7 linked regions of the Homo sapiens genome follow. The protein of the gene in region 3 interacts with the protein of the main gene of each other region in a pairwise test. Each region holds a gene or a part of one and is shown on either strand. Other genes may lie near its edges. The genes, in order: CMYA5, ANKRD1, DYSF, XIRP2, ZNF23, COL12A1 and DGKD.

What was found.
Region 1: the proteins of DYSF (region 3) and CMYA5 interact in a two-hybrid assay, tested with the Homo sapiens proteins (one large-scale study listed by BioGRID and IntAct).
Region 2: the proteins of DYSF (region 3) and ANKRD1 interact in a two-hybrid assay, tested with the Homo sapiens proteins (one large-scale study listed by BioGRID and IntAct).
Region 4: the proteins of DYSF (region 3) and XIRP2 interact in a two-hybrid assay, tested with the Homo sapiens proteins (one large-scale study listed by BioGRID and IntAct).
Region 5: the proteins of DYSF (region 3) and ZNF23 interact in a two-hybrid assay, tested with the Homo sapiens proteins (one large-scale study listed by BioGRID and IntAct).
Region 6: the proteins of DYSF (region 3) and COL12A1 interact in a two-hybrid assay, tested with the Homo sapiens proteins (one large-scale study listed by BioGRID and IntAct).
Region 7: the proteins of DYSF (region 3) and DGKD interact in a two-hybrid assay, tested with the Homo sapiens proteins (one large-scale study listed by BioGRID and IntAct).

The regions. Positions count from the first base shown.
Region 1 is NC_000005.10:79,797,310-79,801,392, forward strand, and holds the end of CMYA5 (cardiomyopathy-associated protein 5), read left to right. Parts: intron 1-2,060; coding exon 2,061-2,307; 3' UTR 2,308-2,913; downstream 2,914-4,083. UniProt on the Homo sapiens protein: May serve as an anchoring protein that mediates the subcellular compartmentation of protein kinase A (PKA) via binding to PRKAR2A. May function as a repressor of calcineurin-mediated transcriptional activity.
Region 2 is NC_000010.11:90,914,700-90,918,767, reverse strand, and holds part of ANKRD1 (ankyrin repeat domain-containing protein 1), read left to right. Parts: intron 1-937; coding exon 938-1,036; intron 1,037-2,498; coding exon 2,499-2,597; intron 2,598-2,887; coding exon 2,888-2,986; intron 2,987-3,126; coding exon 3,127-3,225; intron 3,226-4,068. UniProt on the Homo sapiens protein: May play an important role in endothelial cell activation. May act as a nuclear transcription factor that negatively regulates the expression of cardiac genes. Induction seems to be correlated with apoptotic cell death in hepatoma cells.
Region 3 is NC_000002.12:71,514,696-71,519,391, forward strand, and holds part of DYSF (dysferlin), read left to right. Parts: intron 1-927; coding exon 928-1,056; intron 1,057-1,484; coding exon 1,485-1,547; intron 1,548-2,293; coding exon 2,294-2,344; intron 2,345-4,696. UniProt on the Homo sapiens protein: Key calcium ion sensor involved in the Ca(2+)-triggered synaptic vesicle-plasma membrane fusion.
Region 4 is NC_000002.12:167,254,787-167,258,369, forward strand, and holds part of XIRP2 (xin actin-binding repeat-containing protein 2), read left to right. Parts: intron 1-3,070; coding exon of another isoform or gene 3,071-3,583.
Region 5 is NC_000016.10:71,449,207-71,452,977, reverse strand, and holds part of ZNF23 (zinc finger protein 23), read left to right. Parts: intron 1-2,262; exon of another isoform or gene 2,263-2,384; intron 2,385-3,092; coding exon 3,093-3,771. UniProt on the Homo sapiens protein: May be involved in transcriptional regulation. May have a role in embryonic development.
Region 6 is NC_000006.12:75,087,554-75,091,053, forward strand, and holds part of COL12A1 (collagen alpha-1(XII) chain long), read right to left. Parts: intron 2,746-3,500; coding exon 2,557-2,745; intron 1,622-2,556; coding exon 1,553-1,621; intron 195-1,552; coding exon 24-194; intron 1-23. UniProt on the Homo sapiens protein: Type XII collagen interacts with type I collagen-containing fibrils, the COL1 domain could be associated with the surface of the fibrils, and the COL2 and NC3 domains may be localized in the perifibrillar matrix.
Region 7 is NC_000002.12:233,352,553-233,357,782, forward strand, and holds the start of DGKD (diacylglycerol kinase delta), read left to right. Parts: upstream 1-1,941; 5' UTR 1,942-1,966; coding exon 1,967-2,122; intron 2,123-2,577; exon of another isoform or gene 2,578-3,071; coding exon of another isoform or gene 3,072-3,107; intron 3,108-4,548; exon of another isoform or gene 4,549-4,735; coding exon of another isoform or gene 4,736-4,771; intron 4,772-5,230.

The sequences.
Region 1 (4,083 bases), on a different chromosome or scaffold from region 3:
TTCTACTAATTGGGAACTCTCAAAATACTATTATAAAAAATAAAGAAATGCCAGTTAACAGGGTTATTAAAATTTACTCTAAGGACTTACATTTCACATAGTAATTCTTTTAACAGACACAATTGCAGTGACAAAGGCAATGACTTTATATATGCCCATATCTGAAAGAAATGTCAAAAATTCAAATTTATAAAGCCCTCTGTGAAATATGAGGCCCTATTCAAATGGCCCTCCTGGTCTTGTCTGTCACCTTTTCCTTCTTGGCTGCTGGCACCTTCCTATCTCATTGTCAAGGAGAAGCCACCACACTATCTCCACATCTGAGTATCTCTATCCCATTCTCCACCATTAACTTTAATTTTAATGGAAGTGGCCACACATGTCTAGTGGCTACTATATTAGACAGGGCAAGTCTAGAGCCTGGCCCCTGACTTACTTATCCACGTAACATCCTAAAAGTCACCCCCATGTCCTGTCCAAACCCAAGAGGCCAATGGTGATGTTCTCTGCCACATACGGACTTCTTCAGCCACCTTACCATCACTGCTGCTGCCCTTACTGTGTGGATTTTTCTCCTTCTTTTTCACCTATTCAAGTCCTGCCTGTCCTTTCTGGCTGAGTGTGAGCCCTGTGCTCCCAAAGCCTTCTGTAAGAGCCCAGCTCACACTGCCAGTCCCCATCATTGCTACCTGAAACGTTTAGTCTGTCTTGCAGGTTCCAGAACATCATAGTATTCTGGCATCTCTCTCATTAGCAAGGCATTGAAAAGGTCCTTTATCAACTCAAAAGTCTCACTTATCTCCCCACCACCGTGAACCTCTGCCCTTCCACGTGAGCTTCTTTCTGCAATGAAGTTGCCAACTTGCCATCCCCTAAATACTTGCACTTGAGCTTCTGAGCCTTAAGACAGTTGTTGCAAGTCTTGAAGATCCTCAGCCCTCCCTGCCAGACCCGTCGCTTACCCAGATTCTTAGGTCCAAACTGCCCTGGTGTTGCTGTGCTCCCACCCCTCCAGCCTACACATCCGTCGACCTTTCCCTCATCTCTCTTCTTCCATCTCTCATTCCACTCCTTCCGCTACTTTCAGGGCCCCATTCTCAGTTTCTAAGACTACTGGGAGAAAACCCCAAACTTGTGTTACTTTTTTACATAGAGCAATTTAGCTTTTCTGGTCAGCAGTTTCTCCTTTCCAGCCTGGCCTTGAACCTTTCCCTTCACAACCAAAACAGCTTCATTAAATGTGTCTAGTAAACACTTGAAGATCTACACCCTGAGAGGCATTCCCAGCCGTGGTCCGAGTTTCAAATGTGGGCAGTTTTTCCTTCCTGCTCCATACAGTATGGGATCCCAGAGGGCAAGGACAGCACTTCATGTCCTTCACATGCCCCAGAGTGCCTAGTAAAGTGCTGGATACATGGATATGCACAAGGAATAGTTGTTGAGTTGAATTTGTCTGAATTAAAGAGAGGAATCAAAGGCAACCCCGCTGGTGGCAAGGCTGCAGAAAACCTTGAGAAAATGAAAAGGAGAGTTGGTTTGGGGAAGGGGGAGCAGAAACAAAGGATGAAGTTGGCAAAATAATGAAATATTCCTTAAACTTCATAAAGGCCTTTATGTAAGTTACCTATAAAATTTTAAAACTGTAAAATTAATACATTGTATGGAAGGCAAGCTTACGGTACTTTTAAAAATACATGGCAGCCTCAAAGGAGTTTTATTCAAAAGAATGACACGCCATGAATGCGGTAGTTAAAACATGTGGGCAGCTGGGAGAGAATTAGAATGTGGAGATAAATCACAAGGGAGGCATATGTTGGCTATTCTGGGACTGCCTCCTAATGTAGGAGGAGCAAAATTATTAAACATGCTCATCTGTTGGGATAAGCTCTGCATTTTAGCATCTAGAAGAAATCTAGTGAAGTATTTGGGACAGCATTATTGCAACTCCTTATTGTGAAGTGGAGTTAATAACTGAAGAATTGGTTATTCCCAAGTGACTTTCCTTTTCAAATTCCTTGAGATTTCCAGAGTTTTATGTTTCCCATTCGCTTTCATTTCAGATACACATTTTTCTACAGTGGTATTGTGAGTGATGTTCATGTGACTGAGCGTCCAGCCAGAGTGGGCATCCTGCTGGACTACAACAACCAGAGACTTATCTTCATCAACGCAGAGAGCGAGCAGTTGCTCTTCATCATCAGGCACAGGTTTAATGAGGGTGTCCACCCTGCCTTTGCCCTGGAGAAACCTGGAAAATGTACTTTGCACCTGGGGATAGAGCCCCCGGATTCTGTAAGGCACAAGTGATCCTTGGCTTTCAGAATTTGCAAGAACAGCGATTTGAATTTTGGGGGGGTCTGCTGTTCATTCCTTTAGGTGCTATACATTATTCAAAAAGTCTCCCGCGCATTTGCACTAATGATGGCTGCATGCATAGCAATCAGCATGTGAGCAAAATCGACAAGAAAACCTTGACTTTACAGAGCAGTGTGTGAGTAAACAGAATGAAAACAACAACCTCCACTCTTTAGTTTATATAAGTTTGAGTTCTTTCCTAAATTAAAAGATCTACACTTGAGTTGGGAACCGAAAGAGAAAAATGGACTTCCATCTGTTTTACTGGTAAAGGAAATCCTCTGATGGACAGGTCAGAGTGAAGGAAGGTTGTGCTGGTAAGACATCTCTGACGAAGAGCCATGGATGCTTTCCACAAAATGTCACCTCGCTGCACTAAAGGATGATGAATCCTAATCATTAAAGGAATTGTTTCAGCTGATTTAAATTTATAATGAACTCTTTTGTAATAATGTATACTGTAGAACATGAGTCTCTCCTCCCTAAAATTTTAAATGTAGAAAAGTGCTATATATTAGAAATTTCCATTTTGTTAAATAAATGGTTAGAGTCTATAAAGCCAGTCGTGTTATGTGAACTTACTCCATGTAACTTACTGGCCTGGCATCTCTGGAGCAGGACAAACTGCAGAGTAAAACTCATTACACTTCAGTGCAGTGCACTACTATTGATTTTCCTGTGAGAATTTTACACACACACACACACACTTTAAAATCTAATCACTCTCAGACCATAGTTATAGTCAATTAACAGAAGCTGGGAATCTATTTTTACTAAAATTAAGTGGTCATTTTAAGATATTATGTTGAATCCCTCAAAATCTTTCTAAAATATGTGTGCAAAGTGGATAAATCTAGAATGTATGTCAAGATGATTGTGCTTGTCTTCTATAATGTAAATGTGTTGATCATACTTGTAGTTTTTAAAAAATACTTCAAAACTTGAATTCAGATGTTTTCTTTTTTTTTTTTGAGGTGGAGCCTCACGCTGTCACCCAGGCTGGAGTACAGTGGCATGATTTCGCCTCACTGCAACCTCCGCCTCCCAGGTTCAAGCGATTCTCGTGCCTCAGCCTCCTGAGTAGCTGGGACTACAGGCATGCGCCACTACAACTGGCTAATTTTTATATTTTCTTTTTCAGACGGGGTTTTGCCATGTTGGCCAGGATGGTCTTGAACTCCTAACCTCAGTTGATCTGCCCGTCTCGGCCTCCCAAAGTGCTGGGATTACAGGCGTGAGCCACTGTGTCCCGCCCAGATATTTTCTTGAATTGAGAAATAATATCCTTCTTTCTGAATATATTCTAAAATCTCTTGTTTAATAGCTAGAAAATCTGAACTGGATCTGTAACTGCCTTACTAGAGCCCTTGGAGGCCATTACCACCCTGATTGCAGTTCCAGCAGTTGCTGGCAAGATGGAGTCTTGGTGAAACTGGAGAAGTAACTTGCTGCTTTGTGGAGAATGTTAGTTTCACTTTCTCAATCCTTGAAAATGTTATCCTCAGGTTCTGACTGCTCAGCCAGCCGTGCTCATTATTACTGGTTGTTGTTGTTGTTGTTGTTGTTTTGGTGTGAATGTGTAACCAAGTGAATTTTAGAATTTATCTCAGTTTGGCTTTCTCCAAAAGTAGACCAACTGCAAGGCTCAGTGCCTGTTGTTTACCTAGGAGGTGATTCCAGGAAGAACATTTGAGGAAGTGGGTAAAGTCATTAAAGGACATGTGTTAT
Region 2 (4,068 bases), on a different chromosome or scaffold from region 3:
CCTGAAACAGTTTCCCCAGCTGTTGCTGTGTATGCCAGGAGCCTAATAGGAGAGTTCAGTGGTCCAAAAAATAAATAGATATTAGATCAGTGATACGGATTGCATTGTTTTTTGCACTCATATACATCTGGCTGATTTTTCAGTTTTTCTTTAACTTCTTAGATTCTTGGGATAAGACTTTTAATGTGGGCCAAAAAGTCACCTTTAGAGATATATTATTAGCATCATCTTTGATTAAAACCAAGCACGTCAACACTAGATAAGAAATCTGGAGATTGGAGTTCAGGGGCCAGTTGTACCACTACTTGGCTATTTGGTTTTGAGCAGCTAATTTGCATCCTCTGGGCTGTGGTTTCCTTATCTGTAAACATGGGGCATTGGAGTGAAATAACGCCTAAAGTTGTTCCAGCTCTAATAGTTCATTAGCCCATTCAAATAAAGCCAATTTATCAGAAATCACTAATCTTTTTGTATTCTTTCCCCCATGAAGTGAAATTGGGGACCGCTTCTGAAGTTGAACTAAAAACATGTCTCCCATTCTCCTAAAAATGAATGGAAACTTTTTGATAGTCTAGCAACAGTCCCAGATGCAAGAAAGCTGTCTGATCTGCATGGTAATGCTACATGAACAAGGAAGGTGCAAGATAGAAGAAACGGAGATGTCAGCATTTAGATAGTTTTGAGCCTTTAAGTTCACACTCCTCAACGTAGGCCTTTGAGCCCTTGGAAATGTATATTGGAGGAAGCTCAAATATTAGTTGCAGGATAATTGTTCTGATTCTGCAATTTTAGTTAACTTTGACATTTCTATTCATAAAGAAGCACTTGAGTTTCTATCAGTTAGGTCATCAGAATCTCCAGCTTCATAGCTCTTAAAAGGGTTTACACACATTTTTATATTTATTGCTATCTCTGTTTAAAATCTCTGTTCTGATAGTATAAACGGACAGCTCTTCATAGAGCATGCTTGGAAGGACATTTGGCAATTGTGGAGAAGTTAATGGAAGCTGGAGCCCAGATCGAATTCCGTGATATGGTAAATATATTTCTTTGCTTGGGAATGAGCCAAAAGAAGTAGACTATATGAAGCTCCGGAAAACCTCCAATGCAAAACCGAGCTGATTGGATTGAAAATTGATCTGAGAGAACTAGGCAAAAGCTCATTTCTCCAAATAAAGGAAAGTTGGGAGATGAGAGTAGGTCATGTGAAAATATTTTCCATACATACTGAAAATAGAGGAATATTTCAGGGAAAAGAAGGAAGTGAAAGCTGTTAAACTGAATTCAATATCCTCATCAGCGAGTTAGTCATTCATTTTCGACACTTGCCTTTCAACAGCCTTGTCCCTCCATTGTTCACAGGGCAGCCTGCTTATGGTTGGCTGCCAGCAACATATACGAATTCTCTAGCTGCACACTTTATATGATAGATGCCAATTGCTACCAATGAGATTTGGGGCTAGACTGCATATGAAATGAATTGCATCTATGGAAAGTAGCTGCTATTCAGACCTCAATAATTCAATCACTGTGATTTCTACGAAGACCAGTATGCAGCATAATTTATGAACTGAAGATTGAGCTGGGAAAATTCTTTATGTATTTAAATGCAGCTCATTTTGACTTTATAGCAAAGCGGCAACGGGATATCAAAGAAATCCAAGGGACTTGGCCAAAATTGAATCCAAAACATAAACACATTGAAAAAAAAATCAAGAAACAAAATATGAAGTTTGCATGGAAACTAAAAATCATGAGTGTGGGATTAAGGCCAGGGGCATACCAACCACATAGATCAGTGAGGAGAGGGTCTCCTAGGGGTAACTATACACGTTACAACTGTAGACACAAGTGACTACAGTTGAGGTACAGAGGCTGTGCTAGCAAAAATGAGCAGAAAACCCACAGAAGTAGAGAAAGAGCGACAGGGACCCTAGATGAGGTGTCAGATCCAGATTAAAATATTTTGGAAGGGACTACTTTTATTCTGCCAAAATTTTTAAATACATGTGTTTAGAACTTTTGTGTACATTTGACAAAAGAAGTTAGAAGTTCCAGGCAGAGGGGAGTTTGACTGTGTATTCTGCCTCTTATTAGTTGTGTTTCCTTGGGCTAGAAACTTGAACTTTTTGGAACCTGGTTTTTCTTATCTGCAAAATGTGCATAGCAACACCTACCTCAAAATGTTGCTGGAAGAATCAAGGTGTCTAAAGTGTAGCACCATGTTGGCATGAGAAATGTCTCAATAAGTGGCCATTCTTATTCTTTTAAAACATTATTAGATTTATTAAGAGCCTCCTAATAAGACACACATATGCACACACACACACACACACATGTAATTTAGCTAACACATTTGGTAAGAACCTTCGACTCCAGTTAGAATTGTCAATCTAGATGGGGACAACTCATTATTTTCACGGATGCCCTAGCAACCAGGTTCTAATTCCCCAGACCACATTCTCCTTCACATTGTCGGGTCTTCCCTCCCGGTATAGCTTGAATCCACAGCCATCCACTGGGCAAGCCGTGGAGGAAACCTGGATGTTTTAAAATTGTTGCTGAATAAAGGAGCAAAAATTAGCGCCCGAGATAAGGTATTCCTTCTTCTCCTTCTCCCTTCATTCACCCCCTCCCCCTCCCTGTCCCCCATCCTTCTCCACTTCTCCCACTCTTCCCCCTCCCCCTCCTCCTTCTCCCCCACCCGCCCTTCCCTCCTCCCCCACCCCTCCATCTCCTAACCTCGCCTCTCCATTAAAGTCATCTGGAGGCCCATGCTGTGTGCAGGCACCCTAGTGACCACTTCTCCCCCTCGCACATGTCTTGGGGTCTGGGACAGCCTCTGTCCTCATTCCTAGCGAATCAGCAGCGTTTTCCAATTTTCCAGTTGCTCAGCACAGCGCTGCATGTGGCGGTGAGGACTGGCCACTATGAGTGCGCGGAGCATCTTATCGCCTGTGAGGCAGACCTCAACGCCAAAGACAGAGTGAGTAGCTGGACACGCTCGGGTTTCCCAAAGCTTCATTGCTTTTGTATTTGGAATCACTCCCCCAAGCCTGGGTGCCCTTGCAGGACCCACTTCCTGGCCTCAGACCCACCTTGAACCTGTTGACTCTGCTTCTCTAGGAAGGAGATACCCCGTTGCATGATGCGGTGAGACTGAACCGCTATAAGATGATCCGACTCCTGATTATGTATGGCGCGGATCTCAACATCAAGAACTGTGTAAGTACTGGAAACAAGAAACACCGCTTGCAAGCTTTCCAATTTCCAGGAGCATTTCTTAAATAGGTGAAACGACTCCCACAATGGCAGTATTTGAGGGGTCTTCGATGGTCTAAATGCCCCTGCCCATTTCCCCAAGGACAGTGTTTATCTTGGCTAGGACCCAGTTCACATGGCCAGAGATGAGGGAAGTCATAGATACTGCTATGACCTCAGTGCCTGATACAGTGCATAGTAATTCTTTTACAATTTGGTCTTGGAAATGAAAGATAGTCAAAATTTGCTCATCCCCACAAACACCTAGAAGTCCAATCTGCTTTGGCCATTTCTGTCTGTGCAAGGGCTGAGGAAGTTAGAAATAAAGGCATCCACCATTTCCAAAATGTCCTAAAATTCCACAAGGGTCAGTGCAGCCAGTGAACTAAGGTTAATCAATATCCAATCTGAGTAATTCAGAAAGTCCCTTTCCTCCTTACAGCAATGTGAAATGTCACCATTTTCTTCCAGGGGTAGCTGTGCTTTTGCCTGTATTTTTTTTCAGATAATTTCTATCCATTCTCCACTTGGATTTGTCTTCACATCTCTCAAAATAATTTCCTATATTTAGGCCCTGAAAATTCTTGTATAAGTACATATTAATTTAACTTCATCTGTAAGCAGGGAACATAACCAACTTTTCCTCATGGTCTCAATTTCCAGACAAACACCATCTAATATAAGCTTAAAAAATATTGCCCAGAGGAACAGGTATAAATTTCTGAAGAAATAATTTTAAAGAAGCTTTTGAAGAATCACTTTACAAAAAAGAGTGGGGGGGGGGGGAGGGAAACTCAGTCATCATAT
Region 3 (4,696 bases):
TAAGTGCAACAAATTGCAAAAATATATTTCTATTCTAAATCATGGTAATTTAAGCAGAAGTCCTAGCTCTAACCACTGTTTGCCCCAAAAGACAAAATTCTAGCCCCCATACTACTATTCCCCAAACATGTTCATATTGCCTTTGTTCTCTTTATGGAAATACCATATGTTTATTTTAGACACTTTGGAAAATATATTAAAATGAGGAGATTAAAAATCACTCATCCATCTTCCCATTGCTATTAAGAATATATCCTCCCATATTATGCAATTTACAAAAAAAAAAACAGTTGGTCAGTAAATAACAGTTGATTCTAAAGTGGAGCCAGTAAATATCTTATTTTTTTCCATAGAATTGCCTTAATATTGTAAAATTTCATATTTTAAAATATCTTACCTAATATTTGGAAGCATAGACGTTCTTGAAGTCTTCATTTACTTACAGCTCAATGGCAAAAATTCTTAATTTATTTCTCAGAATGTAAGAAAGCATTGCATCTTATAAAGAATAAAGACTATTTCTGGGGTCACTTCACTGTGTAAGTTCGACCTCTGAGGGAATTGTCAATAAAGAATATTCAAGCCACTTAAAAATGCCAGTATCAATGGGGTCTCGGGTGGGGCTTGTGCCAATGGCTGAATGACATAAATGGGGGCTGTATCTGCCCACCCCTGGGGTTTAATGTGGGTAGCCGACGAGGGGCAGCCTGGCAGCTCTTCTATGGAGCTGTGGAATTTTATAGATGTAAGGGGCCTTGGTGGGAAAATATGATAGTTCGTATAATGCTCTTCCTAATTCCTTTTTAATACTTTCCCCAAGAAGCCAGTGGTGAGATGGTCCCTGAGATTTCTGACTCTTGGGGTGGATGGTGGGTGGTCCTTAACTCTTCCCCCTTCCTCCTGCTCTTTCCTCCTTCTGGCTTTCAGATCAGGGTCCAGGTGATCGAGGGGCGCCAGCTGCCGGGGGTGAACATCAAGCCTGTGGTCAAGGTTACCGCTGCAGGGCAGACCAAGCGGACGCGGATCCACAAGGGAAACAGCCCACTCTTCAATGAGGTGGGAGACATGGGGCATGAGGGCCAGAACCTTGGTGGGCCTTCCAATCTGGAAGCCCAGTGCAGACACCTGGCAATTCATTCAAGAGTGTTTACGTATGGCGCTGACCTTGGGTGGTGAGATGTGCTGGCTCCCAAGGAGGTTATCTGTGGGACTGGAGAAAGGGCTCCTGCTCTTACTTCTCCTGCTGCTCCACATCCCTGTCACCCTATAGGGCCAGCCACCCACCCAACCCTGAAATGACCACGTCTGTGAGGCCAGGGGCAGATCACCCCAGAACTTGTCCAATCCCCAGAACTGTGCCCAATCCACATTTTCTGAGGGGACTAAACTGCTAGGCGTGGAGGCTTGGGGGTGGTGGTCCTCCCTCTCCCTGGCCTGAGGGATCAGCAGGCACTGATATGTCTCTCTTTGCTCTGAACCAACAGACTCTTTTCTTCAACTTGTTTGACTCTCCTGGGGAGCTGTTTGATGAGCCCATCTTTATCACGGTATGTCTCAGCAGTCAAAGTGTTCTCCGTGGGCTGTATGTATGCACATAGGTGTCAGTGCACACGCGTGTGTGTTTGTGCACGTGTGTGCATGTGCACGTCAGTGTGAATGCGTGAATGCGTGTGTGTGCCTGTCGGTGTGTATGTGAGTATGTGCGTGAGAGGGAGACGTGTTAAAGCCTGACATATGGATGATGTGGAGTAACTCACAGTCAGGCTCTACGGGTCACAGAAATGCCTGCAACAGCTCAGCTGGCAGGCAGCAGCTGCGGGAGAGCCCACTGCTCAGCATCCCCCTGGGGCCTCAGGTCAGGGTCCTTAAATCACTTGTGGCAATGAACATTTAAGGTTCCATCTTATTTTGTTAATCCACGTGCCTGCTTCTGACTGAGATTCTCTTTCTCTCTGGGCCTTGGCTCTTCCCCCATCTCCTCTGAAGCGCACTGCAGCCTAGTGGCTCTAAGTGTAGGCTCCGGCACTAGAGTGGATTCCAGCTCTGTCTATGCCGTGTAGGGATTGTGTTTTCTGTACAAGTCTCTGTGCCCCTATTTCACCTGTGAAATGGGGATAATGACAGTATCTGCTGATGGGGTTCCTGTGAGGGCTAAACACTGCTTAGAACAGTCTCTGGAATTGAGTAAGTGTGAAGTGTTGGCAGTTATTGTTTGGGAGGGAAGAGCTATTGGGTTGGCCGTGTGGGCCACATGTTCCCTGTGAATGTGAGTTTCCATGATCTTTCTCTGCAGGTGGTAGACTCTCGTTCTCTCAGGACAGATGCTCTCCTCGGGGAGTTCCGGGTAATTGCTTATTTTCTATGAAAGCAGTCAGTTCTCACTTCTCCGTGTTGGTGGAGCCTCTGTGGACCATGGGCAGGGGCTCCAGAGATCCTGTGTTTCTCTGCTTTGGGAAAATATAATTTCAAAGAACAACGCCAAGCCCTCTGCACAGCATCTCCTTTCACCCCAGAAAACCTCTCCACAAAGGTAGAAGAGAAAGAAAGCACTTTTTGTCACTGAAGAGGCCTTAAACCAGAGTGAGATGTACATCACAGGCAATGATCCACTAAGATGCTGCAAAGACAGAAAGAAATCTCACGCTAATTTAGCCAGCGGGTCCAACCCATTGCCCACCACATACGTTCTCAAGAGAAGCTATGCCCCACCCTCAGGTCAGGGGACTTTACATTTCAGACCTCCTGAGAATGACATTTGTATACTAAAGCTGACAAATGGCTTATTTAGTTTCTTAAAAAGATGTATAGCACCTTTGGTCACACCGAGTTCATCCCAAAGTCACCTGGTAATCGGGGTGACCATCTATGTTAGCTAATTTGTTGTGTCCAGAAGACCAAACAAAAATCAAACTCATATTTTTATGACAGGAAGTAGTTTTACAACTTGGAGCAAGGTGCGCACGGGAGTTAGGCTCCTATCTTCCGACAGAAGCTGGGACACAGGGGAGCCGTCTCCCTTGGTGTTTATATTTCAGACGTCCTGAGAATGATATTTGTATACTAAAGCTGACAAAAGGCTTATTTAGTTTCTTAAAAAGATGCATTTCAAAGAGACAGGGAAAGTGTAATATATTTACAAGTTTTCTAAGGTAAGTGTTCTGACAAAAAGAGAGGGGAGGGAAGTACTTCTTCCCTTATTTCCAACAAGCAGAATCAAGACCCTTATTTGTAATTTGGATTTTCCCCCACCTCTGGGAAGGCCGTGTGAGATCTGAGTTTGGGCAGCCCTCCTCCTCATCCTGGCCATCTTGGGCCAGTGAGACCCAGCGCTCTCTGCCCTGACATCACTCTCACCCTGGGATGGGAGTGGGGTTCAGATATGGATCCCTGGGGGAGGGAGAGGCAGTGGAGAGAGGGGAACCCTGCCCCAGCCTCCTCACTTGTCCCAGACAGTCCAGAAGTGAATAGTCCTCTTCTGAGAACCGAGAGCCAATGGATTTAACAGATTACGTAAAGTAAAGGTAACTAGTAATTGCACAGACTAAAGGAGACCTGTATGATTTTTTTTTTTTTTTTTTTGAGATGGAGTCTTGCTCTGTCGCCCAGGCTGGAGTGCAGTGGTGTGATCTCAGCTCACTGCAACCTCTGCTTCCCAGATTCAAGTGATTCTCCTGCCTCAGCCTCCCCAGTAGCTGGGATTAGAGGCGTGTGCTACCACGCCTGGCAGTTTTTTTTTTTTTTTGGTATTTTTAGTACAGATGGGGTTTCACCATCTTGGTCAGTCTGGTCTTGAACTCCTGACCTTGTGATCTGGCTACCTTGGCCTCCCAAAGTGTTGGGATTACAGGCATGAGCCACCGTGCCTGGCCTGCATGGTGTTTTAATGTAATTTGATGTAATTGTTACTAATTTTCTCATTTTGAAATTTTCAAGGATTTCTCAAAAGGAAAGAAAGAGCACAAGCTTATTTTCCCCTCTCCCCTCTATCCAAGTATATCATGCCTTCCTTCTTTAAATTTGTATTTTAAATATGAATTTAAAATAAGGGGCTTGGTTCTGCCTGTTGTCAGAAGTTACCTTAGAATTATTTATTCTGCCCAATAAATAATTGCTGGGACCAGGCGCAGTGGCTCATGCCTGTGATCCCAGTGCTTTGGGAGGCCAAGGTGGGCAGATCACTTGAAGTCAGTAGTTCAAGACCAGTCTGGCCAACATGGTAAAACCCCGCCTCTACTAAAAATACAAAAATTAGCTGGGCATGGTGGTATGCGCCTGTAATCCCAGCTACTCAGGAGGCCGAGGCAGGAGAATCGCTTGAACCTGGGTGGCAGAGGTTGCAGTGAGCCAAGATCGCACCATTGCACTCCAGCCTGGATGACAGAGCGACACTCCATCTCAAAAAAAAAAAAAAAAAAAAAAAAAAAAAATTACTGGGTTGGACCTGATGGCTAGATCAGTGGGTGAGATTTCTTTGTCTTTGCGCTGTCTTCTCAAATCATTGCCTGTGGGAAGAAGTCACAAGATAAAAAACTAAGTCTGTTTACCTGGAGAAGCATTTTTTAAAAGAATGAGCTTGAGCCCAAGTCATTCTGTAACAAATTAAATCTTAATTATGTTTTGAGTCTTGTTCTGAGAACCCAAGGGTTAAGTCAAAAAATTATTTTACTTGTATCTAATTATAAAAGTAATCTATGAT
Region 4 (3,583 bases), about 96 Mb from region 3:
AGCAAACAGAAACACCCTATCCACACAGTTAAAATGCATTCATTTTCCAAAACTCTTGAAGTAAATGCATTTAACTGAATGTGACATTTGGTGTGACTGTAGTCTGAGATGCTAAAATTGATTTTTTTTTTTTTTGGCTAAATCTAATGTGCATCTCTCACACTATATTTTTTCTGACTTTAATTGACAATGTCGAACACCCTCATGGCAACATTTTTTTCCCTTGGTTTCCATAACAACAGAGTATAATGGCTTTTCCCCTACTCTTTGTGTGCTCCTTCTCAGGCACCTGTGTGGGGGACTCTCTGTCCATTACCAAGATGTAAGAGGTCCTCACAATTATGTTATGGGAATTTATTCTTCTCAACGTTTCTCTTCTTTCTAGTGAATCACATCCACTCCCATGATTTAAATAATCTATGTGGTAATGACTCTGAAGTCTGTACTGCTAGGCCAAATCTCTCTGTGCATCAGATGCTTATATCTCAATGACTGATATACTTCTCCAATTAGATTTCTCATAAGTACAGCAAACTCAATATGCCCCATTTTCTTCTATCTAAATTCCTTCTTTAACTTACAGTCTTTATGCTACTGTATCAGTAAATGACATTAACATTAACTCAGTGACCAAAGCATGGAGTTATCTTTGGCTCCTTCCTTTCCTTCATTCCCTACATTCAAGCCGTCACCAAGTCCTGCAATTTCTGCCCCATAAATACCTCTTAAGCTATATACTTTTCTCCATTCCCATAGCAAGTATCATCTATTAGCACCACTAATTTCATTATCAAAACATTTAAAAATTACATCTGCCCTCCCCATTTTATAAATTATTGTACCACATCTTCAGTTTCAGATCATATAGCCACTACATACCGTGTTATCTCCCTCTTTGCCCTTATTTCATCTTAGTTTTCAGGTTGCAAGATATTAATGCCCACCACCAATGCTTACCTTGATGTTTCTGCAGTTGTTCTGATATTAAAGCTTGGTTTCTAGTAGACTCTTCTAAACTCTTCATGGAAACAATATTCGTTGAATTCTTACATGCTGATAACAATTTGTCTGTGACCTTTATAACAAAAAGTCAGTTTTGCTGAAATTAAAATCTTTGGCTTATACTTTCATTGTATTCTTTGATACATTATTTTATTTTCTTCTGGCATAAAGTGTTGGAATAGCTTGATAACGATCTAATTTTATTTTCCTTATAAGATGTATATTTTTTCTTAAATATACCCACAGATTTTTTTCTTTTTATTATTTAAAATCTAGCAATTTTACTAGATTAGTTCTTGGCATTGGTCATTCTTCACTAGTGTCAGTTACCCAGTGTGCTCTTTCTGTATGTTGTTGCATGCTTTTTTGTATCAAGAAAGTTTGTTTTAATTATAACTATTTAATATTTAATCTGTTTTATTATATAGTTTTTTCTTCAAGAATTCCTATTATCTATACCTTGAATGTTTTTTGCCTATTTTTATTATCTGTCTCTTTCTCTCAAATTCTTTTCATATTTATTTCTTTCTGATTATTGAAAAAGTTGTTTTCATTCTTCTGTTTCTCTTAAGCCACTTTTTATTGTGTTTATTTGCTCTTGTATTTCTTTTAGTTTAGTTTTGTTGCTGATATTTTTATCTTTTATTTCTATTTTTTCTGATTTCTGGCACCTCACTTATGAGATTTTAAATTCTGATTCATGATGTTCTTTCAGGTCTTTTATCATGTTCTTAATGTCTTTTAATTCATTTTGAAGTCATAGGTTAAATTTTTGATATATTTTTAGGGCATGTTTTTCTGGCATGTTTTCATTATCTACAGGGATATTATAATGCCCTTTGCACTTTTATTTTCTTTTAATAACTTCATATATTATTTACCTTGGTACATTTCTGTTTCTCATTTTTATGTAAAATTAGTTTTCCCAAACCTTAGAAGGATAAAAATCAGGATGGTTTTTCTAACTTCACAGAGCTACCTCTTTTAGTTTTCATATGCTGATCAAGAAAATAAGGCAGCTTGATTTCCAGAATTCCCTGGCTTGGCTCCTCTTCTCCATATTTTTCAGAACCTTCTCTTTCATTTCTGTAATCATTATCCTGCTCAATCTTGATTCTACTCTCCTATTTTTTCTCACTTTGGGATTCTGTTTAAAAGGGGAGCCCAGTTTTAGGAGTTCAACCTCACTAGCCTCTTCAAGTCTTCCTTACCACAGGGACCTTGCACTCATTGTCTATTGGAGATCACAAATCTCCTCAAAGTTTCAGCTGCTGTTCTCTGATTGGCATGTGATACTTTCCAGGAAATATTAGTTGGTTATTTTGTGGTCTCATATTTTCAGGTCCATCAGACATCTTCCTTGCTCCCTCTGCTATCACCAATACAGATGAGACCATCATGCTGGCCTTGTGACTGTTGGTGGTTTCTCCTTAGTTCTTTGTATTTTGATGTTGAGGGGGCTATCTTGTCACTTCATTTAGTTGTAAATGTTCCCCATGGGTTTTAAGTTTTGCTATCTTGTTGATGTATCTGTTTTTATGTGTAGATTCATAGATATTTCGAAAACTATGCTCCTGCCTCTGACTAGAGTTCATTTTAATTTTAAATCACTCAATTTGTTAATCTCCTTAAAGAGGCCACATAAGCAATTGTTAGGCACACCTTCCAGCTCGTTCAAAATCCAGTTAACAAAGAAGCTCATATTGTTGATTTGTATGTGTTTGCTACTCAGGATTTATTGGAAATTACAACGCCTCACATAAATCATTGAATTAGCACAAGTTCAGTCCTATCACTCTGCACCATGTATAACCATATGTGCATTACCCTATAATACCTATTATGCCAATACCTGACACACATCATAAAATTCTAAACACTGCAAGACATACATCATATAAAGTATTGGTGGTAATATTATCTAACAGAAATGTTCAACTAATAGGGCCATTCCCATTGCTAGTAACTTAAGTTTACTAGTCTGTAACTCATTGAAATAATTAATCCCCAATTCCCTATGAACTTACAGTAAATACGAACTGCTAAGTGTTCTTTTTCTTTTTGGCAGTTTGGGAAATTATGCATCACTTCATGGACAAATATACTGTAAACCTCACTTTAAACAACTTTTCAAATCCAAAGGAAATTATGATGAAGGTTTTGGACATAAGCAGCATAAAGATAGATGGAACTGCAAAAACCAAAGCAGATCAGTGGACTTTATTCCTAATGAAGAACCAAATATGTGTAAAAATATTGCAGAAAACACCCTTGTACCTGGAGATCGTAATGAACATTTAGATGCTGGTAACAGTGAAGGGCAAAGGAATGATTTGAGAAAATTAGGGGAAAGGGGAAAATTAAAAGTCATTTGGCCTCCTTCCAAGGAGATCCCTAAGAAAACCTTACCCTTTGAGGAAGAGCTCAAAATGAGTAAACCTAAGTGGCCACCTGAAATGACAACCCTGCTATCCCCTGAATTTAAAAGTGAATCTCTGCTAGAAGATGTTAGAACTCCAGAAAATAAAGGACAAAGACAAGATCACTTTCCATTTTTGCAGCCTTATCTACAGTCCACCCA
Region 5 (3,771 bases), on a different chromosome or scaffold from region 3:
ATTAAGGGACTCAGTAGTTTGGGGGTTCCTTGCCATTTCTAAGCATTATTCACATAGTGTGGAGGATACAGAATTAACAGCCTTTTCACACAGATAGAAGTGCTTAAAAGCACAGTCTTTAGAGGAGACTTTTCTGAGGTCCAGTCCCAACTGTGCTGCTTCCTAATTTGCGTGACTTTGAGTAGGTTATTTGAGTGTTCTCATCTCTGAAAATGGGTTAATAATAAAAGGAGGTAATAGTACTATCTTGTGGGTTGAGGTTTAAATGAGATAACACATATCAAATACCTAGCTTATAATGTGTGCTCAGTTCAGTATTTTTATTTTGGTTTTGGGGAATACAGCTGTACACAGGGAAGGTAATGTGGAAGGGAGGAAGTGCTCTTAATTTTTGCTTCTTAAATGTGAATGTGTAAAGGAATCCTGAGGTCTTACAGATATGCAGTAAGTGTGGAGTCTGCATTTCTATGAAGTTCCCTGGTGATGTGGCGATGCCAGTACTTCTGGTTACCAGACCACACTTGAAGGAGCAGGGCTCCAATTGGTGCCAGCAGAGTAGCTGCCAAATGACTTCTCATTCCCCCCGAGGCCCCCCGTTATTTCTTATATTTAGGGTCTGTGAGATTCTCTTGAATTTTTTCAGTGAGTCTTCATTTTTCTTAGATGGTTTCTGTAGGTTTTTATTCCTTTTGATCATTCTATCAGACGATATCTGACCAAAGAAGGCATGTTTTGGAAATGGAGTTTGCCGTATAATGGCCTTGACAAATATAGGGAAAAAAGTGATATTGTGAGGTCTTAATCAAAGGACCCTGTATTTTATTCTGTAGACAGCTGACTGTCCTGAAGTCTTTGACTTTTCCAGGAAACCCATCATGATCCTAGCTGGTGATAGAAACATTAATGTAGTCAGTGTGTGTGGGTTAATTGGGATGAGGAATCAAACAGGCTCTAGGCAGGCAGAAGGGAGGGCAAAGGGCATGAGGCCCATGGCAGCAGTGTTGACTTTCTTTTTAAAAATCTTCAGAAGCCCAGTCAGTGATACCTGTTTAAGACTCATTTGCTGTAACTGTGTCAAATGGCCATCCTCACTGCAAGAGAGGAAAGTGAAAACGAGAGATATTTCACCTATCATATTGAGAATAATTAAATTATATTCAATGTTGGTGAGAGTGCAGCAAAGCAGGAATAGACTTCTGGAGAGGATGACTAGACATCTGATAGTATAGATGTCTTAGTCAGTTTGGGCTACAATAACAGACTGCCATAGATTGGATGGCTTATAAACAACAGAAATTTATTTCATACAGTTCTAGTCCAAGATCAAGGTTCAGGCAGGTTCTGTCTGGCAAGGGCCTGCTTCCCGGCTAATAGACAGCTGTCTTCTCACTGTATCCTCACATGGTGGCAAGAAAGGGAGCTCTCTGGGCTCTTTTTTAAGGGCATTAATCCCATTCATGAGGGTTCTGCCATAGCTCAACCTCCTGATACAATCACATCAGGGGTTAGGACTTCAGAATATGAATTTGTGGGGAGGACAAACATTCAGTCTATAGCAACAGATGAGTATTATTTTTTTAGTTGGGAAGAGACCAGTATTATTTAGAAAGTGCTTGCTGGGGAATCCAGGCAATTGGAGGGGCTTATTGAGGGCAATTATGAAATACTGGGGCAGGGGGCATATTACATGTGGTTGAGGAGTGATGAAAGATGAAAAAATATGAGGCAGCATTTTGGGACTGAGCTTTTGAGAAAGTTGGGAACAAATGCAGAGATGAGTAGTTCTAGTTCTAAAGACTATTGGGATTATAAAAAGATTTTTAGGGAATGATCAAGTTTAGGATTAGAGGAAGAAGTGAAAGGAAAAGGCAAGGTTAATGCAGCAGTATTTGGAGGGGAATGGGAAGAAAGGGGATGAGATGGACCTCAAATAGAGCCTGTCTAAAGTAGAAATGAAGTTGAAGGACAAATTTTGGAAAGCCCACAGTTAATGTTCTAAGGAAAGAAACAAAATTATTTCCATTTTGCTCCCTGGTGCTGCTGACTGTTGTCATCTTCCAAGTTGCCATATTCTGTTGGATCCTGTGCCTTTTCCTTCTTCAGCATTTTCCATTTTTTTTTAAGTAAGGAACTGAGTGCTATAGGAACAACTAAGAAGAAACTGCAGGGTGTAGAAAAGCATGGTGTGATTAAAAGAATGCTGAGCTGGTGGACAAGACCTAGAATTTTATTCCACTACTGTCACTTTTTTTTTTTTTTGAGATGGAGTCTCGCTCTGTCGCCCAAACTGGAGTGCAGTGGCAAGAACTTGGCTCACCGCAACTTCCGTTTCCCGGGTTCGAGCAATTCTCCTGCCTCATCCTCCCGAGTAGCTGGAACTACAGGCACGTACCACCACACCCGGCTAATTTTTTGTGGTTTAGTAGAGACGGGGTTTCACTGTGTTGCCCAGGCTGGTTGCAAACTCCCAAGCTCAGGCAATCTGCCTGCTTCAGCCTCCCAAAGTGTTGGGATTACAGGTGTGAGCTACCGTGCCCAGCTGTCACTTTTAACCTTCATGTGATTGGTTATGTTCTCTACAGTGGCCTTGTATTAGGCACAGTGGGAATGGTGATTTTTTTTTTATCATTACTTTCATTGCTTTTCATTACTTTCATAATATTGACACCTATTCAACAGTACAGAAAGTGTATAAAGTAGGGAAGCAAGTCCACTAAACTTCCTATGCCAGTTTATTTAGTTTCTTATGGATTCTTCTAGAAGTTTTCTAGGTATGTACAAATATATATATCTGTCTTTTATATTTTTCTTTACACAGCTGAAAATCTATTCTATATACTGTTTTTTCAACTTGTTTTTCCATTTGATTGTATCTTGGATGTCTTTTTACGTCAGCATATATGGATTTATTGTATTCTTTTACTAGTTAGTTACAAATTACTTATCCCACCTTATGGAGAAACCCTATGTTTTTTGACCTAGTCTGGTGATTTTAAGGAGCCCCCTGATTATTATGGTCTTTTATAGCACAGTTCTCTTCTTTTTCCTAACATGGTTCTTACATGACATTTTATGTTTTCTGTTTTTTATAGTAGATATTCAGACTGACAATGATTTGACAAAGGAAATGTATGAAGGAAAAGAGAATGTATCATTTGAACTTCAAAGAGACTTTTCCCAGGAAACAGACTTTTCAGAAGCCTCTCTTCTAGAGAAACAACAGGAAGTCCACTCAGCAGGAAATATAAAGAAGGAGAAGAGCAACACCATTGATGGAACAGTGAAAGATGAGACAAGCCCCGTGGAGGAGTGTTTTTTTAGTCAAAGTTCAAACTCATATCAGTGTCATACCATCACTGGAGAGCAGCCCTCTGGGTGTACAGGATTGGGGAAATCCATCAGCTTTGATACAAAACTCGTGAAGCATGAAATAATTAATTCTGAGGAAAGACCTTTCAAATGTGAAGAATTAGTAGAGCCCTTTAGGTGTGACTCTCAACTTATTCAACATCAAGAGAACAACACTGAGGAAAAGCCTTATCAGTGTTCGGAGTGTGGCAAAGCTTTCAGCATTAATGAGAAATTAATTTGGCATCAGAGACTTCACAGTGGGGAGAAACCCTTCAAATGTGTGGAGTGTGGGAAAAGCTTCAGCTACAGTTCCCATTATATCACACATCAGACAATCCACAGTGGGGAGAAGCCCTATCAGTGTAAGATGTGTGGGAAGGCCTTCAGTGTTAATGGAAGCCTAAGTAGGCATCAGAGAAT
Region 6 (3,500 bases), on a different chromosome or scaffold from region 3:
TTCCTACAATGGCAACAACGTACCTGGATAGCCTTGCCCGTTGTATGGGATGCTGGCACACTGAGAAGAATCACAGTATCCAGGAGGACCTGGGGGTCCTCGGATACCTGAGTTTCCAGGACGGCCAGGGGGGCCAGGGGGACCTCTTGAACCTGTGGACCCTGGTGGACCTGTTCTGGATTCTCCTTGTGGACCTAGTGTGGAGTTAAAACAAATATATTTCCCCTCTTGTCAAATACAACTCCTGAGGTAGCCACCAATACTTTAAGTGGCACCTCCACTGTCTCAAAATTAGACAATTTACTATTGTATGGTAAGAAAATGTTTCCTTAAGAAATACCCAATATGAACCAAGGTGTGATGGAACTTTCTTACCAGTGACTCATCAGAGTTAATGCCAGAAGTATTTTATTCCAGAAAACCTGATTTAGCAAAAATTCAGCCAAACCAGAGATATCAGTGAGTTCTTTGGTTTGCTCCCACTCTCACAGAGAAAAGAGCACCTGAAGGAAACAGCTCTGTTAAGCAGCTACATTGAGCTGCCATCAAAAGAAGGCAGCGTCTGCTCCACACCTCCAGCCTATGCAAAGCAATATTGTTTCTGGATCAATAGTTATAGTTAACATAAATGGAAAGATTTAGCCATAGGGCTGTCCTTGGTTGCAAGGGTATCATGTGCCTTATAATGAAAAAAGAAATCATTTACAACCTAGTAAACAAAATGCATCAGACAGACATGTAGTAGTCCTATCCAAAATATAAAAATGCTTTGGGAGAGCAGTGAATGAAATTTACCAATATCTCAGGCCCTTTTAGTGAGGCTATGTTTTCTCAGTCTAATAGCCCCATATTGAAGACTACTGGAAAAAACAGGAAATATAACCATCTTTAAAGTCTATGAGGCCAAAAAAAAAACAAATAGGAAGGGAGGAAGGAAGGAAGGAAGGAAAAGGGAAGGAAGGAAGGAGACAGAAAGGGGAAATAGTAACCCTTTGTGTCACTAAAATTCATTTCATCATATATTAATGTTATAGTTAATGCCTAATAGAAACTTTTCATTTTTTTAACAAAGGGAACATGAAAATGAAGTTATGGAGGTTGAACTTCTTGCTAAAACATATGCCATGGTAATAAGAATGCTTTATGCTATAATAACAGGATGAAGTTGGCTGGGAGCGGTGGCTCACTTCTGTAATCCCAGCACTTTGGGGCCAAAGTGGGAAGATCATGAGGTCAGGAGATCGAGACCATCCTGGCTAACACGGCAAAACCCCGTCTCTACTAAAAATTAAAAAAAATTAGCCAGGCGTGGTGGCGGGCGCCTGTAGTCCCAGCTACTCGGGAGGCTGAGGCAGAAGAATGGCGTGAACCCAGGAGGTGGAGCTTGCAGTGAGCCAAGATCGCGCCACTGCACTCCAGCCTGGGTGACAGAGCAAGACTCCGTCTCAAAAACAAAAAAAAGAATAACAGGATGAAGTTGTGAATCTCTTCGGGATGGTGTGCCCTCTCGGTATTTATAGTCTTTGCCTGTTTAAAATACTAGCAAACCTACCTGGGGGGCCAGGCAGCCCCCGAGGTCCTGAAGATCCAGTACCCCTTTCACCTTTCTCTCCTGGCAAACCTAAGGAGGGAGAAAAAGAGAAAGCACAGGGGAAAAATTATCTGGAAGCATGTAATTTTCATCTTAACTGATAATATTTGATTCAAGTAATTCATTTCCTTAGTGAAAGCAGAACCTAATTTTTCACAGAAGTTCACTCTTTAAGCCAAGTTCTTTCTAGACATTTGTGTAATTCTAGATTTATGGCCAAGAAAAAATTTGGCTACAAGGCAGGGGAAAAATTATTTGAAGCAAACAAACATGTCTAATATATTTTTAAATAGTAATTAGGAACAGTAATCCTGAAGAAATTGTTATAATATCTCATTGAAAAACATATTAAAGGTATTTTATCTTTAGTAGCCCTATTAGTACAGCAGCCAAACCAGTAGAATTATAGAAATATGTAGGTTTTCTCTAGAGTATTAAGTACTCCTTTGACAAAAGTGGATACCCAGAATCCTGAAATATCTGGAATCAAATAGTCCTGTTTTTCTCCTTTTCCTTCAACTGCAGTTATCTATACCATGAAATTAGAGCCAAACAAACATACAAGACCAGTGCCAGACCCTGAATAAAGGAACCAAAATAAGTTGGATCTAAAACTCTAGGGCTGCCTAAGAACATTCAGTTGCTGCTCGACTCTTGCCGCAGTCACAGAGAGTAATAAGATTTGGGTAGCTGATTTAGTTTGCCAAGATAGAGTTTTTCCCATTAAAAACAACAAAAGTCAGAAAATAGCATTATCTTTACTGAGATCTGATAAAAACATACCATTTTTCTAAGACATGGATCTCTATGGCCTATGAGTTGCCTAACAGCTCTTCTGAGGCTGTCCAAACAAGACCAGGGAAAGCAGTTTGCCTAGGTCACCTTTCAGATGCCTTCAACCTGTCCCAACTCCTACATTTGCAAATTCCTTCCTTTATCCCAATACAGAAGCCAGAAATGCCTACCTCGTTCCCCAGGGGGTCCCTGCATCCCTGGTGTGCCCGGGAAGCCTGGCCGCCCCCCAGGCCCAGGTTCTCCTCTGGCTCCTGCGCTACCAGGAGGTCCCGGTGGACCCGGCGGGCCTGGCTGGTTGCGACTGGACTGGTAATCATTTGGAATCTGATTCAGCATCTGATTGAATCTGTTCATCTGACCTACAAGCAGAAATAAGGCTTGTTAGTAAGAAACCCAATAAAGGACGGATGAGAGAGTGAAACTGTTTTCTCTTAGTGTCTAGTGAAATCCATCTCCATTCTGCAACCCCTCTAAGGAAACAATCTAATTAGAATCCTAAAAATAAAATTAAGACAGTCTAATCATCGAGGACAAAATGGTCCCTGATAAATAACTGTTTCCACAAAATGCTGACCTACAAGCCACAAACATTACTACAAATATAAAAGAGTTGTTAAAGTTTAATATGGCTCTGAAATAAAGTCTTGAGATTTACCAGGTGACATCACTCAAAAGAAAACCTTTTTTATAATTAGATAATTCTACAATTTTTTGTATATCTAAGGCAATGATAATCAGGTTTCAGTGCAAACTGGAATTGCCTGTGGGGCACCTTGAAAAATCTGTATTTCTGGGCCTTATCTCCAAAGTCAATGATTCACTAAGCTTAGGGCATGGTGCAGGAACTCACTTCTAACAAGCAACATAAGTGATTCTAAGGCAGGTGTTCCTCAGTACCGCACTTTGGAAAACATTGATTAAGACTTCTCTAAGAGTGAGTTATGGGTTTAAGGCCCACACCAGTCTGCAGGTACTGAGCTTCATTACTTAACAGGCCTTATGGAATAAGAAGAGCCTGTGAAAAACAGGCAAGAGAGAGTTTCCTACCAAAATCAACTTTCACTGATCAAATTCATCTTGGTGGGCCCCCTTCCTTAAGGTCATAAAATGACTT
Region 7 (5,230 bases), about 160 Mb from region 3:
ACATGTAGTTAATTGATAGAAAAGTCCCAACCCTGTGGGGAGGCTGGAGCCCTTTGTGCCTGCATGAGTTCCCTAGGGCTGCCAGAGCACTGCACCATAGGCCGGGCGGCTTCCACCACAGGAATTGACGCTCTCGGTTCTGGTGGCTGGAAGTGCGAGATCACGGTGTCGGCAGGGGGAGTTCCATCGGAGGCCTTTCTCCTTGGCTTGTAGATGCCATCTTCTCCCTGTGTCTTCACATGGGCTGCCCTCTGTGTGTGTCTGTGTCCTCATCTCCTCTTTTTATGAGGACGCCAGTCATACCGGATTAGGGATCACCCCTGTGACCTCATTTTAACTTCATTACCTTTTTAAAAACCTTAACTCCAAATGCAGTCACATGCTGAGGTACTGGGGGTTAGGACTTCAACATATGAATTACGGGAGGACACAGTTCAGCATGCGACTGTGCTGCAGAACTTTCTGGGGGGACGGGGGAAGTGTTTTATATTTGTGCTATCCAGCGTGGCAGCTGCTAAGCCACATGCGGCTACTGAGTCCCTGAAATGTGGCTCCTGTGGCTGAGGAACGGAATGCTGAATTCTAACTAATTGAAATTTAAGTAGCCACATGTGGCTAGTGGCTATAGTACCCTGGGGCACCATGGGGCCTTCGGCCTGTCCCGGACTGTTCCTGCCTTAGGCCTTGTCCTCCTCTGTCCTGGCCGTGAGCCCATGCCCCTGGCCGTGTCCCCATGCCAGATGCCACTCTGCAGCCCCAGGTCACTGCCCAGGGCGGCGCGGCCAGCGAATGCCTATTGGCAGGCGAGGTCTCTAGCGGCAGCCCTTTGACAGGGAGAGGGCACACCTGGGCAGTCCCTTACTGATTTGCCCCTCAGAGCAGGGCAGACAGATGGACAGCATTTCCTCTGGGTGGCACCAAGCCCTGCTCCACCTGGATGGCACCAAAAACTTAGCTGATCTCATCTCCAGCTTCGCTTCCTCCTCTTCTGCCCAGAGCAGCGCTGGACCCCACCCGCCCACCATCCAGCAGCCCCCCTGGGAAACATGGGACTCGTTCTGGTCACCTCTGTCTCCCTCCAGTCGCTGGTCACTCCCCACCTGGATCTCAGTCCACGTCTCTATCTCTCAGCCCCTCGGTAATCCAGGGCGTCCACCTGCCCTGATAACTTCAAAGCCCGGATCACAGGCCCCAGCGTGGTGACCCAGCCCCGCCCAGGGTTAAATCCCTCAAGGGCTTCCTGCTGCCTTCCATCCCCTTATCTGGTTTCCAAAGCCCGCTTCGACCTGCCCGCCCCGAGGCTCATATCTTAATGCCATTTTCCTTGCTCTAAGCACCAGCTTCCCTTTCTTCCCCCGTCTTCGCCCAACACTCGTTCTTTCTTGCCTCCAGGCCTTTGCACAAATCTGGTCTCTGCCTAGAACATGGTTCCCTCTCTAGTCACAACTCCTGCTCACATTTTCCATCTCTCCTTAAGAACCGTTTTCTCCAGGAAGCCTTCCCAGATGGAGCGGTGCATCCCAGCTCTGGCGTCCCGAGGCCCGTCCCAGTACCGGGGTCTCTTTCCAGCACGCGCGCGCGCATTCGAGCTCGCCCCAAACTCGGCCACACAAGGCTGGGCAGGACAGACACAGCCCCAGCCTGCCTGAGGTTACCTACATTCTGATGCGGAAGAGTAGAGATGTTTTAAGAAGTGAATATAGAAACAAGAACACAAACGGCGTTCCAGAAATAACACACAGAAGCCACGGCCCGGAGAGGTGGGCGGGGGGCCCGGGACGCTTCAGGTGGGGGCGGGGAGGGGCCGCGCGGCGCCGTCTGCAGCTGCGCGCATGGCCGGCAGGGGGCGCGGCGGGGAGAGGCGGGAGGCCGCCCCCACCGCCCCCGGCCCGGCCCGCCCTCGGCCCCGCCCCTCCCGCCGGCCCCGCCCCGCCCCCGCCCGCGGTGCGCGCGCTGGCCCGGCAGCATGGCGGCGGCGGCGGGCGCCCCTCCGCCGGGTCCCCCGCAACCGCCTCCGCCGCCGCCGCCCGAGGAGTCGTCCGACAGCGAGCCCGAGGCGGAGCCCGGCTCCCCACAGAAGCTCATCCGCAAGGTGTCCACGTCGGGTCAGATCCGACAGAAGGTGAGCCCGCGGCGCGGCGGCCCGGGCGCGCGCCCCTCACGCCGCGGCAGCCCCGGCCGAGGCCCGTGGCCCTGCCCGAGCGGCCGCCCAGGCCCGGCTCGGCCCGGCCCGGGGTCCCGCGGGCGTCACCGCCCCTGTCGAGCGTGCCCCGCCGCTGTAACGGGCCGGCGCCCCGGGCGGAGCGCGCGGCCCCCGACGGACGGCGGGCGGCTGTGGGGCCGGGCGGGGGGCGCGCAGGTGGGCGCCCCGGGCGCCGCGCGCTGGGCGGGGGGCGCGCGCCGAGTTGGGCCGCGAGGACCCGGAGGAAACTGAGGCCTAGATGCAGGGGACTGCGCTCGTGCCACCGAGCGGGTCCCACGCGGGGGCTCCCGGCTGCGCCCCGCGGGCGTCCGCGGTCCCCAAACCCCGGTTCTGCACGTTTCTCAGGAGCGGTCGGGTGGTGTCCCGCGAGTGCCCTGCAGACTTCCCTGTGGTGCCCTCAGAAGTCCGCTCGGACCCGGGTGCGAGGGATCACCCCTTCACCCCTTCATCCCAAAAGGGAAGGAAGGGATGCGCGTTCAGTGACCGTCTCTCTCAGCAAAGCCGGGACCGCGCACCCGCTTGGCACCCAACTCTCCACGGAGAACTCCTGACGCTAAATGTTAGATAAAGACGCACGTCCTTTTTGCAGGAGGAAAGTTGCACCGTTTGTTTTCCCATTGTGCTTCCTATTGAAAACAGCTTACGGTTTTTGCTCCAGGTGAGCCCGCCCGGTTAGAACACTGCTTCCTCAGGCAGGTGGCTGGACAGGTGGCTGCGAGCAGGCTGGGTCCCTGGGGCAGCTCTGGCAGATCCGGTTGGCACGGACTTTCTCCTCCTGCTGCAGTGCGCTTTTCCTCCGGGGCGGATTAGGTTCAGCCGTTCCCTTCACCGTGGGAGCCTTCTCTTCTGTCAGCCTTTGATACCTGCGATGGGGGAACCTGAGGTCCTAACATGTTACAAACAGGTTTGTTGTGAAGTGCTCCAGTTATTCAGCAAATAGGTACCGAACACCTGCTTTGTTCCGGGTATAACAGTAGCAGTAGTGATGATAATGATAGCAATAGCAAATAACAATTCTTTAATAAGCCTTCTATGTGCCAGGCACTTTCTTGGGTTAGCTTTACAGCACTTGACATGGTTAGTTTATTAGTACTGGTGAGAACCCAATAAGTTGGATGCTATCATCTCCGTCTTTTGGAATTGGAATAGAAATAGAATCAAGGTTAAATGACTTGCCCAGGGTGTCACAGGTCGTAAATGTGGATGTGTGTTGGAACCATGGTCAGGACCGTAAGATGGAAGGCAGTTTCTACACCTAGGGATTCTCAGTCTAGTTGGGAGATGGACGCCTGTGCACCTGACATGACAACATTGTAAGTGCCGCGGAAACTCGGGGCAGAGACCTGCCCTGGGGAGGCAGGAGTGGTTTCCTTTAAGGTGAGATCTTGAGGGATAAAGAATTCACCAGGCTAAGTGGGTAAGAAATGGCCTTCTACATATTTGAACCTTGCGTCTAGAGCTTTAGGCACAACTGCGAAATGATCAGAAGTTGGGCCAGAGGTGGATCACGTTGATTAGACTTATTAGTTGGAAGGGTTGGTTAGGGCTGAATTTCGAAGGGGTGGTCCTTTGAGGGGTTTGCTTTTTGGCCTTGGGCAAGAGGTGGCCACAGAGGATTGTTCAAAGTATGGGGGTGATGGATCAGATGTGCTTTTGGGAAGATCTCCACATAGCCCTAAATGATACTGATAGGAGTTGCTTTCTCCTGTTGCCCAGGCAAGGTACTGACCAGTGTGGGGTAGATCATGTGATTTACAAGGTTGATTAAGATCAAGATTGTGTTGAGAGAGATTTGATTCCTGGGAGATTCCAGTGTTTAGAATTTTGTTGGTTAGGAGGTGTTTTTGCTTTCCTTCTTTTTTCTCCTAAAACAATAGCTGCTATACCAGCTGTTCTGGTTGAGGAGGAGTGATGGGTAGACTGTTAAAAATACACCCCGAGGACTTAGAGTTTCTGAATACAGTCACATCTGCTGTACAGATAGCTTAAGGCTGATTTTTCTTCTGAGTTGTTAAGAGATTGTCAGAATGTGGGAATGCGAGGTTGACTGTATGTAATAGCTCCATTTTTTTTTTTTCCAGCAGATAAGCCATTCACAAAATTCCTCTGGTATCTATGGTACATAATAGAAACATCAAAAATGGTATGGGGTAGCAGTCTGAGTCTAAAAAGAAAAACAGAACTCACCTTAAGTATTTGGAACAGAAGGAATGTAATCTAGGGGAGTGGTCACACAGGTGATGTGAGAACTGAGAATGCAGGCTGCAATGAGGCAAGCCGGAGATGAGGCAACAAGCAGGAAACTGCTGCCACCCCTAAGTTGGAGGGTGAAGGAAGGAGATGGCATTTCAGACTCCAGGGACAGCTGTCACCCACCAAAAACTGGGGTCACAAGGGGTCCATCTGGCAGTGGCTGGAGCCTTGCAAGGGCACAGCTGCTGCTGCGGATGTACTGTTCCCCTCCTGCCTGGGAACCCTGGCCTTGCTGGGGTCACCTCCTCCACAACTTGGACTGGAGCAGAAGGACAAAGAATGGATCTGAGGACAAGCTGGCCCAGGACCAGAACTGTATGTATGTCAGGCTTTTAAAATATTAGTCTAGTGCAAGTCAGAGCTGTCTTAATGAAGAGAAAAACAAAAGAGAATGTCTTAGGGCAGTGCTCCTCAAATTTTAATGTGCAGACACATCTCCTAGGGATCCTGTTAAAATGATGATTATGGTTGAGTAGGTCTAGGGTGGGTGGGGCCTTAGAATGTGCATTTCTTTTTCTTTCTTTCTTTCTTTTTTTTTTTTTTTTTTGAGACAAGGTCTCACTTTGTCACCCAGGCTGGAGTGCAGTGGTGCGATCTCAGCTACGGCAACCTTTGCCTCCTGGGCTTAAGTGATTTTCCTGCCTCAGCCTCCCAAGTAGCTGGGACTACAGGCAAATGCCACCATGCTGGCTAATTTTTGTATTTTGTTGTAGAGATGGAGTTTCCCCATGTTCCCCAGGCTGGTCTCAAACTCCTGAGCTCAAGTAATACACC